Regions from separate parts of the Homo sapiens genome. Here region 1 is linked to region 2. Evidence: fine-mapped expression QTL. Tissue or cell type: whole blood. Region 2 holds a variant in brackets; the other region holds the start of a gene. All regions are shown on one strand. Distances are between the middles of the regions.

Evidence for each region. PIP is the estimated chance that this variant, and not a neighbour inherited with it, causes the effect.
Region 1: EPHB6 starts here. The variant in region 2 is fine-mapped to the expression of EPHB6 in whole blood (INTERVAL, PIP above 0.99).

The regions. Positions count from the first base shown.
Region 1 is chr7:142,850,532-142,858,637 of GRCh38, forward strand. It overlaps EPHB6 (EPH receptor B6), which reads left to right and starts at 4,545. Exons shown (of 20, transcript NM_004445.6): 1 at 4,545-4,854.
Region 2 is chr7:142,805,932-142,814,037 of GRCh38, forward strand. It overlaps TRB and TRBV30. Among named protein-coding and RNA genes, the nearest start is that of PRSS2, 39 kb to the left of the region's middle. RefSeq lists an enhancer at 2,458-3,657 and a cis regulatory region at 2,779-3,670. The variant T/C (reference allele first, on the strand shown) is at 3,070.

The DNA of each region.
Region 1 (8,106 bases), 45 kb after region 2:
ATTAAGAATATAAAGTGAAGACTTTTTCTTTGAACTCTTACATCTTCATTCCTTTTCTACTTTGCTTCAGATTGTTAAAAGATCTCAAGTGCTGTCGTTGCTGTTTACTCATTCTTCATGTTGACTAGCTCCACTTTGTCGGTGGTGCTTTAAGTTCTGATGGGATAGATTCTCAGAATCCATTTGAATGTAGAGAGAGACGTATACTATAAGACAAGAGAATATGGGAACCAGGAAATGTGTCAGCCACATCTACAAGTAGAAGGCAGATCTCATAGAAATGCAGGCCACCCTTTCAGTTTAGGAAATGCAAATGTTTTCAGAGAGCACTATCTGGAGGCGCAGCTCCAGAAATAGACTGCATTCTACTGGAAGAGCCGACCAGGGGACCATCTGCTCCACATCATAGATCATCCCATCTCCTATATGCACCTGAATGGAAAAGATACAAACCAGGAAAGGAGCAAAGAATGGTGTGGAGTGTTGATCACTTCTGCTCTGCATATGAGGACTGCCCTGCCCAAAATCTTATTAAAATCTAGAATGTTTTCAAGTCCTATTGTTTGTATGGGTAACTGCAAAGGATTTGTTATTTTTCTTTTGAGATCATGTCATGGTTATTTTAGAAAGAGGACACTCCTAGCATTTCCCTTCACTCCACTAACTTCCTGGGGACCATCTTTGAGCATTAAACCTATGTAAAGACAGTGGTCTGGGGGAAAGTACCAGCAAGTATATCCTATAAAAAGGAGATAGAGATCTCTGTTGATTGCAGGGAAAAATGTAGATTACCGTGATCATTTTATTTCATTTGTGGCAGAGGCTGCTGTTCCCCTGGCTAACACGCTTTCTTTCTTCCTCTCTTAGGTTTAACAGCTTTAATTTCATTTTGTGCAGCATGTATTTTGCAGGTTTCAAGCAGGTAGGGGTGGTCACGTGACACTGTCCTGGCCAATAATACATATGAAGTCACTGAATGGATCTTCCAGAAAGGTTCTTTGAACAGTGCTAATTCAGCTGGATGTAGCGTTTTAATCCTGTTCCCTTCTTTTTCTTGCCTGAAATTTGTAGACCTCATAGCTGGAGCTCTGGCTAAAATGTTGACAATCTGAGAACAAGTCCTCATCCTAAAGTTGGAGTCTTGTTGACTTGGGACCTTCATCGTATTTCTGTGTTATCTAATTTGTTTAAACCACTGTTGTACAACTTTGCTGTTACATATAGCTGAAGTCAACCCCTAACTGAGAGAAAAGCCATCCTCTTTCTCTTGGAGGCACTAATATCTCTGAATACCTTGTTATTATTGCATGGTTAAAGTAATATCAAAGTGTAGGACTATGATGGGTAAACTTTAATACCACCATGAAGGGTATCCATTACCCTTGGTCTACAAATCAGTTGCAATCTAGGTTTGACTTTCAAACAAACCAGTAACATAGGAGAATTTTTGAACATTCTAGAAGTTTCTGAACAGAAAACAATAAAAGCTTTAGTTGTACAAATGGGCATTTAACACTTCCATTGGTAAAGTGTTTGGAGACTAGACTCCAGCTTTTAGGAAGTGCAACTGCACCTAGAGGCCACAAAGCCTCAAGACAGTTCAGTGAAGGGCCTGAGCCCTGTGAGGTCATGCATTGGGAGCTATAACTAATGTTTTGGAATAAGAGATAGGGGACTCAGAAGACTCCTTTATGGCTTTTTACTAGAATTCTTATCAGTGAAATTATTTGTAAAGCTCTTTGTTTATGACAACATCAGCTTACATTAGCTGTTCTAAGGGGAAATAAGGAAGAAGAAAATTGCACATCCTAGGGGAGTGAGCAAAGCCCAAGAAGGAGGCAAAAACTCAGAAAAAATGAGGCAGAACCAATCTAGGAGCCTTCCTATCTCACCTGGAGTTTTCTACTCAGCAGTTCCTTTTGGTTCCAAATTTACATAATAGATTGTTGTGTGCCAGAAATGATTAATTCTGTGAGCCATAAACTTTATTAGGTCCTGCCCATTAGCAATACTCCAGGGTTTTTTTTTTGAACAAGTCAAAAAAAAAAAATATATATATATACACACATATATATATAGAAAGAAACAGGGTCTCACTCTGTCGCCCAGGCTGGAGTGCAGTAGGACAATCTTGGCTCACTGCAACCTCCGCCTCCCGGGTTCAAGCGATTCTCCCACCTTGGCCTCCTGAGTGTCTGGGACTATAGGCATGCATCACCATGCCTGGCTAATTTTTGTATTGTTTGGTAGAGATGAGGTTTCACCATGTTGGCCAGGCTGATCTCAAACTCCTGACCTCAAGTGATCCTCTCACCTCAGCCTCCCAAAGTGCTGGGATTACAGGCATAAGCCACTGTGCCCATCCACATAGAAAAAGTTTAAATATTATTTTTTATTGATTCATTCTATAACACTTCTAAGCACCTGGAGTGTCCCAGGCACCAAACAAATTATAGCAAAAAATTTACATTAAACTTTAAAAAGGAATTCATTACTTTGCTTTTTAATAGCTGCAGGTTGCAGCATACTTTAACAATGCATTCTATGCTCTCCACCTACCATTAAAACTTGGTTTGATAAGACATAGGCAATTAGGATGCAAAGCCGACTAATCACAAATTTAAACCTCTTTGCATCCTGAGTATGACACTTCCTTTGAAAACTAGATGCCTCTCAAATTTTATTAACAAGACAAATATAACTAATTACACAAGCCTTGAGCAGCAAAAACTTCATTTCATATTATAGTCACCTAATATGAGGTATATCATGAAATAGAAAAGAAGGCAGATATTTTTACTGTTATGTCAATACAGGATACGTTGCAAATTACTACAGGAATTTCTGGGTTTTATAAAGTAACAACTACGGTTTGGTTTTGTCCATATTTTTATTTTAACATAATCTAGTTATGTGTCTTTTTTTTAAGTTTTCAATATAACCATAGATGTCTAGCAATCAGGCATGTTAATGTATGAGTTACGTAATTCCACACACAATGCAAATTCTGTTTCTTTGCAGAAGTCTTTGAAAGCCTTGGAGATAACCAGAAAATGAAGGAAGCCCTCCACCACTGAGTTTCAGGGCAAAGGGAAGAAACAAGATAAAGTAGAACCGTCAGTACAAGTGGAATTATTAATGACGTCCAAATGCAGTCATTAAATACTATCAGACTTATTTATTGACTCCTGATATTAAGAGTGAACAAACCCCTGGCCAAGTGGGAACTTGCTCGGTAGCCTTTATCTTTCTATCACTCATTCAGTCAATTCATTAAAGCCTGTTTGTCTCTCCCAGGTGACTCTTACTGAGTTTCATTGTTTTGTTTATTGTGTTTGTTGGCTCATAGATCTCTTTCACAATTTTCTTCGGCTTCTGAATGCTCTTTAAGTACCAGTTTTGATCAGCCCATTTGCTTTAATAAACAGGAGAGCAAGATGGGACAGGGCGATACAGGGAGAAAAGGGGGCAAAGGGAATCGCACCGGGTGCTTGTGCTCCCTAGAAAAACCAGCAGGTGGTAGCAACACTTCGTGGCAAGGCCCCAGCCCAGCTCTGTAGGACCCAAACAATAGACCCCAAATCCCCGTCCTCGGCTAGAGAAGGGGTTAGAGGTGGGCGGAAACACTTTTCCTCGCGGCGCCCCCTCGGTTCCTCAACCCTGCCTCCAGGCGCCAGCTGAGAGCACCTTGCACCGCCCCTCCTCACTGCAGGGAGGTTCTCTCCGGAGCGCGGGCGAGGGAGGAGGCACCCAGAGGTGCAGCGACTTGCCCAAGCCATGTCAGAGCCAGGCGTACAGCAGCGCTTCCCCTTTTCAACCCGACTGCCCTGCCCCTTGGGGAGGGTAGATGGAGGGAGGTTCGACTCAGAAGCCCCAACGTTGACCAAGATCCAGACACGAAAAGAGAAAAGAGTTCCCGGCTAGCACGGCGACGCTTTCATACCGAGACGCCCCCCTCTCCCGCTGCCTCGGCTCCCCCTACCACCGCCCGTACTCTCCCAGATTTCTCAGTTTGTCTTTCCCTCCACCCCCTGCTTTTCCTTCCTTCTCTCTTGCTCAGCTCACGCCCACCTTAGTTCCAAGCTGAGTAGGAGCCCCACTGTTTTAGTTCCTAGAGTTAAAGCCGAAGAGGAGGGAGGCGCGAGGGGGTGTGTGCAGGGCTCTGCCCTGCCCTGAACTGCCACGGTCCGCCAGTTGCGCTTCGCTCCGCGGGTGTCCGACCCAAGCCGAGCCCGAGCCCGAGCCCAGGCAGGGGCTTTACAGACAGCCTCTTCCCTTCCCACTTCCTGCAGGCGCCCCACGCGTGCGATCCTCCCGGCCAAGACCCGCGGGAGGAGGCCGCCCCCTTCCCGGCGCACAGGCGGGGCCCCGGGCGCGCCCCGCGTCTCCCCCGCGCGCCGGGGCGGAGGAGCGGGCGCCGCGCACTCACCGCCTAGGCCGGGAGGGCGGGCTCGGCTCCCCGGAAGAAGGGAGTGGGAAGGCGGCCAAAGGGGCTGAAGGGGCGGGCCGGGCCGGCTTGGGAGGGGACGCGGAGGGGGCGGGCCGGGCTGCGTTCGCTCCAGCCGCGGCTCTACAGCAGCGGGCGGCGGGACCCGGGACCCAGCTTGGCGACGGCGATCTCGACGCGGGCCCCCAGGATCTCCCGGCGCCCCACCTCTGGAGCAGCCCCTGCCGCCAGCGTCAGGTCCACCCCGGAATCCCAGGGACTCTCGGCGCCGAACGGACCCGGGCCGGGTGCAACGGGGTCCCCGGACTGGAGAAGACGCGGGTGGCACCGTGCGAGCTCCAGGAGCCCCGGGTCCACTGCGAGGCCTCGGGGGGCGCAGACCTGCAGAGACTGCGGCCAACGGGAAGGTGAGCCCGCGGGGTTAGCAGGCGGCGTTGTGGGGGTCGGGGACAGTATGCTTGGGGACAGAGGAATTAAGGTTTGCAAGAGTAGTGGGGCTCCTCAGCCCCTAGGTGGCTTCCTGAGGGAGTACTGAGGATCCTTCCTCAAGGCCAGAGTGGGGTTCATGAAGGGTGAGGAAACGGTCAACCTGGCTACTCCCCTCTCACTCCACTCTGACCTGGCATCATTGACACCGCATTACCCTTGCTGTTAGGATCCCCCAGTTGCGTTCCCAGACATTCTCCTCTGGCTCTGGCTTGGGAGTCCTAATCTGGGAGGGTCCTCGCAGAGACGGAGCTCCACGCTTGGAACAGGATTGCCACCCCTCTGACTCCAGTGGCATCACTCCAATCCCCTTGGAGCTGGGAGGAGTCAGGAGGCTGACCACACACCTGTCCCCTGCTCCCCACAAGGCACTGTCCCCCCCAGCTCCATGACCACAGTTAAGCCTTGGAGGTGGAAGGAACGCTTGGTTCCTGCTGCCCAGCCATCACCCCCAACGTGCAACCAAATTCTATTGCGTGCTCCTGCCCCAGCTCCACCCTCGCTCTGCTCCCTCCATCTGGGTGCTTGGCCCTGCTTGCCCCACACCCCCACCCACCGATCTTGGCCGTCTGGCACCCTCTCTCCTCCCATCCCTGGGGGAGCTGGCATGGACCCAGCATAGCAATGTTGTAATGTCCCTGGCAGCGCCCATGGAGCGGAGCTGCTGGGTCTGTTCCCAGTTAACCCAGGCCCTCCGCCCGCCAGGGGAACTTGACTGAGGCTCTAGGAGGGGAGATGCTGGTCCTGAGCTGAGAGACCAGTGGGAGGGAGCTGTGTGGGGCTGTTAGTAGACCACAGAAGCTGCCCAAGTAAGGGGCATTGGAGCATTGAGGCTTCTGAGTGCTGCTCAGTGGGGCCACTTGGCTTTTCAGAGCAGTGGGCCTTTTTTCTCAAAGGAAGATTAGCGTGGGGGTGTCTATGTACTTACCTGGTGGCCTCAGAAGGAGGACTTGTTTGGAGTCTATTACTCCATTCAGGGTGCAAAAAGATGGTTGGCAATGACACTGAGTTACCAGAATGCTGGGGAGCAACAGGCTGGGGTGGGCTGAGCATGGGAAAGGCAGGATCCTCCTTCTGGGACGGCTGTTCTGCTATCACTCTGTCCTGAGCCTGGGCCCTAGACCCTGAGTTCCCACTCTAGGTAGAAGGAGGATGGCAGGTTCTGGAGGGTTTGGGAAGCCTCAGGTTTCCCTTTCTTTACCCACTCCTCCCCGCCCCCCACTTGGCTCCCTCTCCCAGCCCAGGTGTTTCTGCAGAAGTACCTCCTGGGGCCAAGAGCAACTCACAGCCAGACTGGGGGTAGAGCAGGGGCCGAAGGTGAGGAAGAAGGGCCCATGGAACCACTCCGGAACCAGCACTGATGTGCATCTTCTGCCACAGGAAAGCAACAGCCCCCATCTACACAGACAGCATCTGCTCCCGCCCACCTCATCTCATACACATTCCCTTACACACTCCACCAGGTAGACACACATCCTCAGGCACTGCTGACGCAGGTGCTACTCCTGGCACTCAGGGGCTTTCTTCCACAACCTTCCACTTACTCATCTCTCAGGCACATTTGCCTCCTGCCTTAACACCCTCCCTTATGCTCTTTTCCAGAGCCACGCATGTCCCCGGTCAGTGCACAGAGTGGCTCATTCTAAGTGGCTGTCTGGCTAGACCTAGACACTGCCTGCATCTTAAAAGCCTCCCCCAGCTCCACAGCCTGGGAGTGGGAGGCACATTTGTCTGAGTCACAGTGCTCTGGGGGACATTCTCAGGGGCTGGAGGCCTCCAGGGACACAGGACTGTCCTCTGCTAGGTAATCTACAAATTGGCTTCTCCAGCCAAGGAAGCAGGGACTAGAAGAGCCGGAGGACAGCCACCTCCTCACTGTCTGTCCTGGATGCCTCCATGAAGCCTGATGATGGGATCCTTCTCAAGGCAGGAGGCCAGAGCACGAAGAGATCTCCAAGGTGGAGATTAAAGGATAGAGGCTTTGGCATTAAACTGAGCAAGGATTATACTGGAATTTCCTGGGCGTTTAACAGCTGTGGAACAGGATAGGGGACAGGGCCTGTGGTACTGACCCCTCCCACACTGACCTGTGTGGCTCACAGGTGTAAGGACCAGCCCAGCAACCACACCAGACATAAAACCTCGAACCGCTTTGCCCTTGGGACTGTTCTGTCCCTGCTGGACTCTGCAGCCTGCTTTGTCTCACTAAATTGTTCCTGTCTGGGCTCGGTTTGGGGCCATGCCCTTTACTATGTGTTCCCAGTGGACAGTCCCCTGGGTTCCCCTCTGTCCCTTCATAGCCTCATCCCTTTGCTTGACATCGTCGAAGAGAAGCATGCATGATGTCAGCAGCGGGACAGTTGGAACTTCTTGGGAGACAAGCTTAAAGACTAGCCAGAGATAACAATTATTTTGGTTTTCTTGTTGGCATTACTTCACTCATTCATTCTCAGCTCCTACTGTATTTCCACCTCTACCTTCTTCTTATAGATGAACATTTCTTGATATTTTGAAACATAGAAGGAAAATGGCATGGGGAGTGAATAAAATGTAAACGTATGCTTATTTGTCTAGGTTTTACAAATATTTTTCTTTTTTGTTTAGATTTTAATTATGAGATTTTACGTTAATTATAAAAATAAGGTATGCTTACTGTAACAAGAAAAATAATTGAATTATGTGTAAGACAAAATTAATGCCCCCACCTACAATCCTTCATTTCTACCTCCCACAGTAACCCATTTTAATGGCCTAATATGTCTTCTGCCTACCTTCCTCCAAGCTTATTTGGCTTACATTATTTAATCTTTAAAAATTCACTTTGTGGATTGAGGTGCATAAACTATATTAAGTAAGCTTGATTTGCTCATGAAAATATCATATTTAGCATTTAATTGGAGCACGATTAATTTTTTAAATTCTTACCAATTTACCAATTTAATTTACTTTTAAGTCATTCTTTTTTTTTTTTTTTTTTTTTTTTTTTTTTGAGACAGCATCTTGCTCTGTCGCCGAGGCTGGAGTGCAGTGGCACGATCTCGGCTCACTGCAAGCTCTGCCTCCCGGGTTCACGCCATTCTCCTGCCTCAGCCTCCCCAGCAGCTGGGACTACAGGCACACGCCACCACGCCCAGCTAATTTTTTTTTTTTTTTTTGTATTTTTAGTAGAAACG
Region 2 (8,106 bases):
CCAGAGCCCCAGTCACCATCACTTCCTGAGAGGAAGAATCTTCCCATCAGCACCAGTATCCATAGAGATTTTCCTACTACTAGGCTCATTGCTGGGCCACATAAGGTTGGGGAGTGGGGATGGTCGGGAGCTGCTGGGACAATCCAAGAGAAAAAGGCTTTTTCTCTCTCAAGGGAGTGATTTCATAATAAGAGTTTGAGATAAGGGCAATGGATCCTAATAGATATTAAAGTCTCCATTTCCGTCCCTGAGCCATTTCCTCATTTTTCTTCTGTAGTGGCCCAGAAAGGAGGGGTGGAGATAGACTGATATCAGCCCCTAACAGTCTGTGTGACACACAGCCCCAAATGTCCTATATAGGAGAATCTTTGTGAGGTTTCTCTGGTTATAAATGAATGTGGGAATGGAATATTGGTGCTTTGAGACCTCTGTTGAAGCTGCATAGTGAAAACAAAAATGAGTTTTTGCTTCTTCCTCAGGTAACACTGAGCAAAGATGTCTAGCCATATTTTCATTTAGGGGTGTTGGGAGATGCTGGTGGAGATCACGGGAATGGCTAAAACCCAGAGGTGAACTCAGCTTTGCCATGGACCCATGAGTGAATCCATTTTCTGCTTCTCTACTGACATCTCAGACTCATCACCAGGTTCACTTTTACCATGTCCTAGAAACTCCCCTATGCTATATAAGAAGACTCATAGTATAGAATGGCATGAAGCATGGCCAACAGTTTTAATCACAGTTCATTTCCATTGCTTGTGGCAAACTCCCATGGCTCCCAAAAAGCTGATTTCTGAGGCTTGGGACCCCATAACCTAAGACTACCCAACCCACCTAGACTCAAACACAACATATTCCCTGCCTTATTCTAGGGTTGAATGTTCTTTCCTCCTATCTGGAAGCCTTCCTTTTCTTGCTGTCTGTGTTTGTGAATTTGAAGTTCCTGGGTTCCTTAACATCCCTACATCTCTGCCTGTCCTTTTATTTTTTTTATTGTGGCAGAACTTATGAATCATCTCCCTCCAACAGACATGATATTTTCTATTCGCCATCCCCCTCTCCTATAGACTCAACTACATGCCTTTCTCTCCCATCTCTATCCATAGTCTTTATCTCTGCTGCTGGTGGACTCCTGAGAGGGCTTCTTGGGGAATATGGGGCCCCAAAAATGAGTGAATGGCTTCTGTAGGTCAGCAAAAAGGATCTGAAAATGAGCCTACACCTGTGACTATTTCCAAAGGATTTTTATCAGCTTGCTCTGCAACTGATCTCAACTGCCCTCTGTGAATATGAGCATTTAATCCACACAACATGTAAAGCTAATTCTCAGCTCCTTTTTGCCAACCTACAGTTGCTATTCACTTATCTCTGGGACCCTATAGTCCCCCCAAAAGCCCTCTCAGGTGTCTACATGCAACAGAGTGCCCATATTCTGGCAAGAACCCATAAATCTATGCGAGACAGAATCATTAGAAACTTTAAAACTTGAGTTTTTGGAATGGAAAAAAAGCATGTAGTGGATGGATGAAAACATTATCGTAGCAAAGAAGATGTTGTAATGCAGAGACCTGGGTTTAAGCCTTAGTTCTGTCATTTATCAACTATGTGACCCTGGGCAAGTGATCACCTCTGAGACTCAGTTTTCCTTGCTGTAAAATGAGCTCAATTACAAGCCCAACTTCATAAGATCGTTTTATCTCATTTAACCCACACAACATGTAAAGCTTTTAGAACAATATCAGTAAGTATTAGGTGTTATTATAACTACTACCAACCTGAAGATTTTTTTCAGGCAAAACATTTTCAGTTTTCTCAATTTTGTTATTATAGGGCACAGTTTTGAGCACGTCCTACTTTCCATAGCCCAATCACTCCCTTCTGAAAACATTAAAGTTTGTTTTTATCCCTCTATCTTTTAAAAAATGTGTTGTACAGGACCTGACCCAGCACCAGGTGGGTTCTGACCTACAAAGAGTAAAGGGGGAACTTTGCCTCCTCTTTCTCAACATCTTATACGTTAGTTGGTTCCATTAGGACAATTTATCTACTTTTTGTACGCTCACCATCCCGTTGACTCACAGAGCTCACTTTGACTCACCCCCTGGGTGTTTTTTCACATATCCTTCTTTCACATATTCCCCTTCCTGTGTTCATATAGATGGTTTTCTCTGTTTGGTGGGGGAGGAGGGAGAGAGAGAATGTTTATCATGTTTATTCAGCTTATCTCTCCAACCTATTAAGATTCTGCAGGATTCTAATTTTGTGATTCATTATATTTATCCTTCTATCCTCATGCCATCTCAGATATGATCATCTTGCCTGATTCATTACTATAAGAGTGATTCATGAAATTCATAGCAAGATCACAGCTCAACAGAGACCCCACATTCCCCAAGCCTTGTCTGAAGTCCAGGAGCTGCTAAAACACAGAGAATTAGCTTCTGGTCCTCCTCTGGCCCCAGCTGCATGGCTCTGAACAACTCATTTTTATTCTCTGGGCTTATATGTCCTCCTCTGTGATATGAGGACATTGGGTAAAGTGATCTCTAAGAATCTTCAAACTCTGCTCTTCAGATTCTCTGATTCAAAGCCTGCAGTCTCTGAAGTACCAAGAGAATGGGAACTCAGAGAAGCTAAGCTCTTCCTGGCCTCAAATCATACATATCTGTGACATAGTCTCAGACAGTCTGATGGTGGAAGAGGACAGCACTGGCACTGGAGTCCCACAGTTAGCAAGAGTCAACTGGAGCCCTGACACCTGTTCCCTGGCCCTCCTCCATCAAAAAGGTCTAGGGCCATGAATGACAAGAAAATTGTGTTAAAAAGGAGAGTGGCCCTGAATCAAAAGGTGGGAAGTAATGAGATGTAAATCGGGGTCTTTTAGGTAATAGCTGACAACTGGGGTAGGAATGGGGGTTCTGAGCCCAGTGCTGGCTGCCGGGCTGTTTATCTCTGAGTCACATCAGCACCAAGCCACAGCAGCCACCTGCCCTAGCTCCATCTCTTACAGTCACAACAGGATGTGGTTTGACATTTACTGGGTCCTGCATCTGGGGTGCCTGTGAAAGT[T/C]GCTCCCTCCACCCACCCACCTTCAGAGCATCATGAGAACCACACTCACCGCATCCGGCACCCAACCCCCTCCTATGCTGCTCTTTCTACCTGGGCCCCTGGTTAGCATCCTGGCAGTAGAAATAGAACTTCAGAGGGGAGGGGCAGGGTCTCTAGAGGGGAATCTAGGTATCCCAGATCCATGTGCAGGCCTCCCCTCCCCCAACACATCTTTACACCTGCTGGAGGTTATGCACAAGATCAAAGGCCACAGTGGGCACCATGAAGATAGTGGAGAATGAAAAACAGCTGCAATAACTGCTCTGACCCAGTTGGGATCCCTTCTGGTCCCACATCACTCAGGCAACTCTCTCTTCCCACCTGCCCCCCAAACTCCCTTCCACCTCCCTCCACATGTATCCTCCCACTTCCTTCCACTCATGTAATGAGAGGTGCTGATGAGTCACAGGAGAGGTAGCCCTAGATAACCAACAGACTGCAAAACGGACAGTCCCTGGATGTCTGAGCCAGTGTTTGTGCACTGCATTGACTGGCTCCTCGTAGTTTTTTCCTGTAGTTGCTAAAGCCTGTAAGGTCTGTGTGATGAATATTTTCTAACACATCTTAGAAGAACATAATGCAAGACAGAATGAAAAACTAGAGAGGCAGAAACCCCCAAAGTAAGTAGTGGGAAATTACCAGGTATATAATAGGTCAAGCCTGCTCTGCAGGAGCTCAAGGGATTGTAGCATTCTTATCCCAAACCACTGAATCCTGGGCAAAAATAAGAAGTCGCCTAATTTTAGTATTACCAGCTTCCCAACCCCGGGCATTCTTCATCTTACTCAAGCTGTCCAGAGGCCCCAGGGTGACTCCCTATAAGTCCCATGGGTGGCTGAGATCTATTTAGAGGCACAAGGGTATCTCCTTATAAGTCCCATGGGTGGCTGAGATCTATGAGAAGCATCTTGGGGAGAGTGCCTCTGGCCACCAGCATGTGGCCCTGAATCTTCCATGTGCAACTGGCCAGGGAAGGAGATATATGGAAATAGTCATCCTGCACATCTGCAAAATCAGATGCAAATCCTGGAAGCTCTCCTAGAAAAGAGACAGCCTCATCTGATTAAAGGGGCAAGTGAGTTTGATGAATTATTGGCAAGAGACAGCATGTCTGAACAGGATCGGTCATCCTAAACTGCTTTCCTTTGTCCCCTGGAATTATAATGACTGTGGATTTCTGAGTCCTAGATGGTATGGAAACAGTTATGGGAATGAACAGTCTTGCATGAATAAGAGCAGATAACATGGAGGATGTTAATTTGTTCTGCTGAATTTAGGTGGCTTTCAAGCCTCTCCTTCAATGCTCACCTGTCTCTAGGATGCTCTGTGCAATGATCAGGACTTTTTTTCTTCAGATTCTCTAAAACTTACAATATTCACATAGACCTGCACATTTCTACACAAACTGACTCTCCTGCTTGCAATGTCATTTTGCTTATATAACTATTAGCCTCCTAAAGAGCTAAACTTAGCTACAATTTTATGTCCTTTGTGAAGTTTTCCAGAATTTTTGCAGTATATTACAGGAAGGAAAAATCTGCCTCAAGTCTCTACTAATTCTACTTGACTAGTGGTGATTGCCTGAGACATTTCTCTATTAATGAGGATTCTGAAGCTGTATAAAGCCCCTACAGAATCAGCATCTGAATAGGCACAGCATAGGGTTCAAGTTTCATGGTTTTGCCATCCAAGCATGTTTAGCATTTTAAATATTAATATTTATTACATACTTGTAGTTTATGATTTGAAATTTTTTAACTAAGTCTTCCTCTTGGGTAAGTTGTAATGAAAATAATCTTGTAAGCTTAAGGAGCGGAAAATAATACCTGTTGAAAATTAGAGCTTGTAATAGGGCTTTATAAACACCATCTCATTTAATACACATAACAATTCAATGAGGCAAGTTTTATAGGTGGGGAAAAACTTGAAACTTAGTAAAATTAAATAACTAGGTCAAGTTCATAACAACTAGCAAATTTTTAGACTACAAAAATCAAGTGCTTTGACTAAATCATGCTATGACTGTGCCCAACACCATCTCGAGTACATTTTATTTTTCTTTTTAATCCTCAAAATGACTCACTGTGTCCAGCAAATAATAGCTGCTTAATACATAGGTGATCCTTAAAGTTCAGTAGGGACCCCTGGGCATTATTCCATATGTTCTTGATCACTCTGTGTCTACATCTCAGATTTTCCACTTCAGATTAAATGATACTAGAAATATGCACGTGTCTGGATTGATCTAGGTTAAATGATGCCCGGAATGGAGTATTTTAAGACATCTTGTGCCCCCTTGTGGAGGGGAAGGGACATTAGAAAGAAAATCTTTTTAAGAACAAGGACTAGGGAGGGATGGGGATGAGGAAGGAAGCTCAGTTGCCAAGGTAACCATCGAACCTCTTCCCAGCCATCCACATCAGCCTTTTCCTCTCCTTCATTTCCATCCAAGTGATTTCTCTTTTTTAGAGCTCAACCATTACACACACGGTCCTCTTCTTGCGTATCTCTTGGATCACCATCTGTCTGTCTTTGCTACAAAGGAAGGGCTACAAGATAGTACAACAGGACATTTTTTAAAACCTCAAACATCACCAAAATTTCTAAGTGCAAGCTTATTTTTATTTTTTTTTTTTTTGAGACAGAGTCTCGCTCTGTCACCCAGGCTAGAGTGCAGTGGCATGATCTTGGCTCACTGCAACCTCCACCTCCCAGGTTCAAGTGATTCTCTTGCCTCAGCCTCCCAAGTAGCTAGTATTACAGACGCCTGCCACCACGCCCGGTTAATTTTTGTACTTTTAGTAGAGACAGGTTTCACCATATTGGCCAGGCTGGTCTCAAACTCCTGACCTCAGGTGATCCTCCTGCCTCAGCCTCCCAAAGTGCTGGGATTACAGGCATGAGCTACCACGTCTGGCCTAAGTGCATGTTACCTATACTAACAAAACCACACTTCTGCCTCGAATGAGAACAGTCTCCTGAACATCTTGCCTCTTTGCCTGACTCAAAGCCTCAGGTCTAAGCCTCCCCATAATTTCTAGTCTCAGCAGAAAGATCAATGACAGGAGACTCTCCAGGTGATGAAATTAACCAATTAAGTAACCTGGGTTGGCATCCTCCCGTTTGTTCACCAGCTCACCTCCTGCCACAGGTATATCCTTTCTCTCAGCCATATATGCACAAACCCCCTCCCCACGGCACACATAGAAGAATTTGGAAGACTAGAAAATCAGGCAAGGTATAGCACACCTTGAGGGCTGGAGTATGGTAGCCTGGGCCGGGACATCCATACATTGAGAACTTGACTATGTGCAGGCAAATCACAGGTTCTGCACACATACAATTTTTTGTTCTCCCTGAGAACTTAGTAGAGTCTTTTGTAGAATTCTCGCTTTATTCCATTGCTTTCACATTGGCCAGCAGTCAGAAACCTACTTACAAATATCCTCCACCCAGTCCCTAAGTGAAGGCCCCTGGGGAGTATGGTTAGGGCTCAGGAGAGGGTGGGGTTTTTGCACAGATGTCTGCCCCACCCAGCTCAGTGTGACACTCCAGGCACAGAGATAGAAGCCAGAGTCACTGAGAAGGAGCTTCTTAGAACTCAGGATGAACTGCCGGTCCTGGGGTCTGGAGGCTGAGAGATTCTGGGGCACCTCAGAGCTGATCTGGCCAATACCAACGGAGTAGAAGAGCAGCTGGAGGCCCCTGCCTGCAGCCTGTCGGTACCAGTATAGGTTGGGGTTTGATGTTCCCTCCACAGTGCACTCCAGAGAGAGCGGGCTGCCCACAGGCTGCACCAGGGTCGCTGGCCATTGATGAATAGTCTGAGATCTGACCCCTGTGGGAAAGATAAAGTGCCATTTACAGAGGAGCACCCCAGCCTGGCTTGCCTTCCCCAGACAGAGGGGCAGCTCAAGCTCTTGCATGACACAGGCACCTGGAATCCATCATGGGGAGTAGACTGGGGGAGCCAAGGATGCAAAGCATCCCTGGGCCAGGGAAGACCAACAGAACGAACTCCTTCTCAGGAGATAGAGAGAACTAAGAATCATCAGATCAGCCCCTAAGGCTAAATTCCCATATCTGTTCCAGACAATCAGGAATAGACTCAAGAGTGTCAAACCAACAGCTCAGACTCTGCATTCACGGGATTGGGGTGAGGGTGAGGATGAGAAAAGAGGCTTGCCAGAGAGGAGGGCACCCACCAAAGAAAGTGCCCAGGAGAAGGGCAAGGAGAGAGCAGAGCATCATCCAAGCCAGCCTTTCCTTCAGCTAGTCTGGGGGACAGACGCCTCCTCTTCTGGGCCAGTGATGTGGTCAGGCTGCTCCCTCTGGGAGATCTGCTGCCAGAGCAGAGGAATCCTACCCCATGAGCTGGGGAGGAAATGAGGCTAGTCTTCTTTTAAGAGTGTGGTGAATCACCCCCAGCCTCCCTGGGAACCAGCTATACTCTGCACTTGTTATCTTCTTTGCATTCCTGCTGACATCCTGGTATGTAAATATATTTAATGACTCATTATTTACCTGTAAACTAAAGGTAACTCTCCAGCTCCCCCGGGAGACATCAGAAGCCTGGGAAAGCTTCAGAGAAACTGTGATACTGATAGAAGGATGAAAAAAGATTTTAGTTTATCTGAAATTGGAAACTAGAGCTAGACATGTTACCTGGGAGATGAAAGGATAGGGCTCAAGAGATTCAGGTATTTTGGGGTAATCAAAGCAGAAATGCTCAGTTCTGAGGGCAGGAAGCTTCTATGACAGCCAAAGGGATCGCCTGCATAATCTTCATCCCTGGCAGACAGATTTTGAGACCTGGACAGGCATAATTAACTCCTGAACTGATCAAAGTTGGAATCTGCTCCATGTGTCTCTAATGGGCCAACTAGATCTAATTTATCCTCTAAATGCAATATGAGTAATAGGAAACATCACAGAGACTTGGAATCATATGGATTTGGGTTCATTTCACAGCTCTGCTTCTTGCTGGCTTGGGAACTC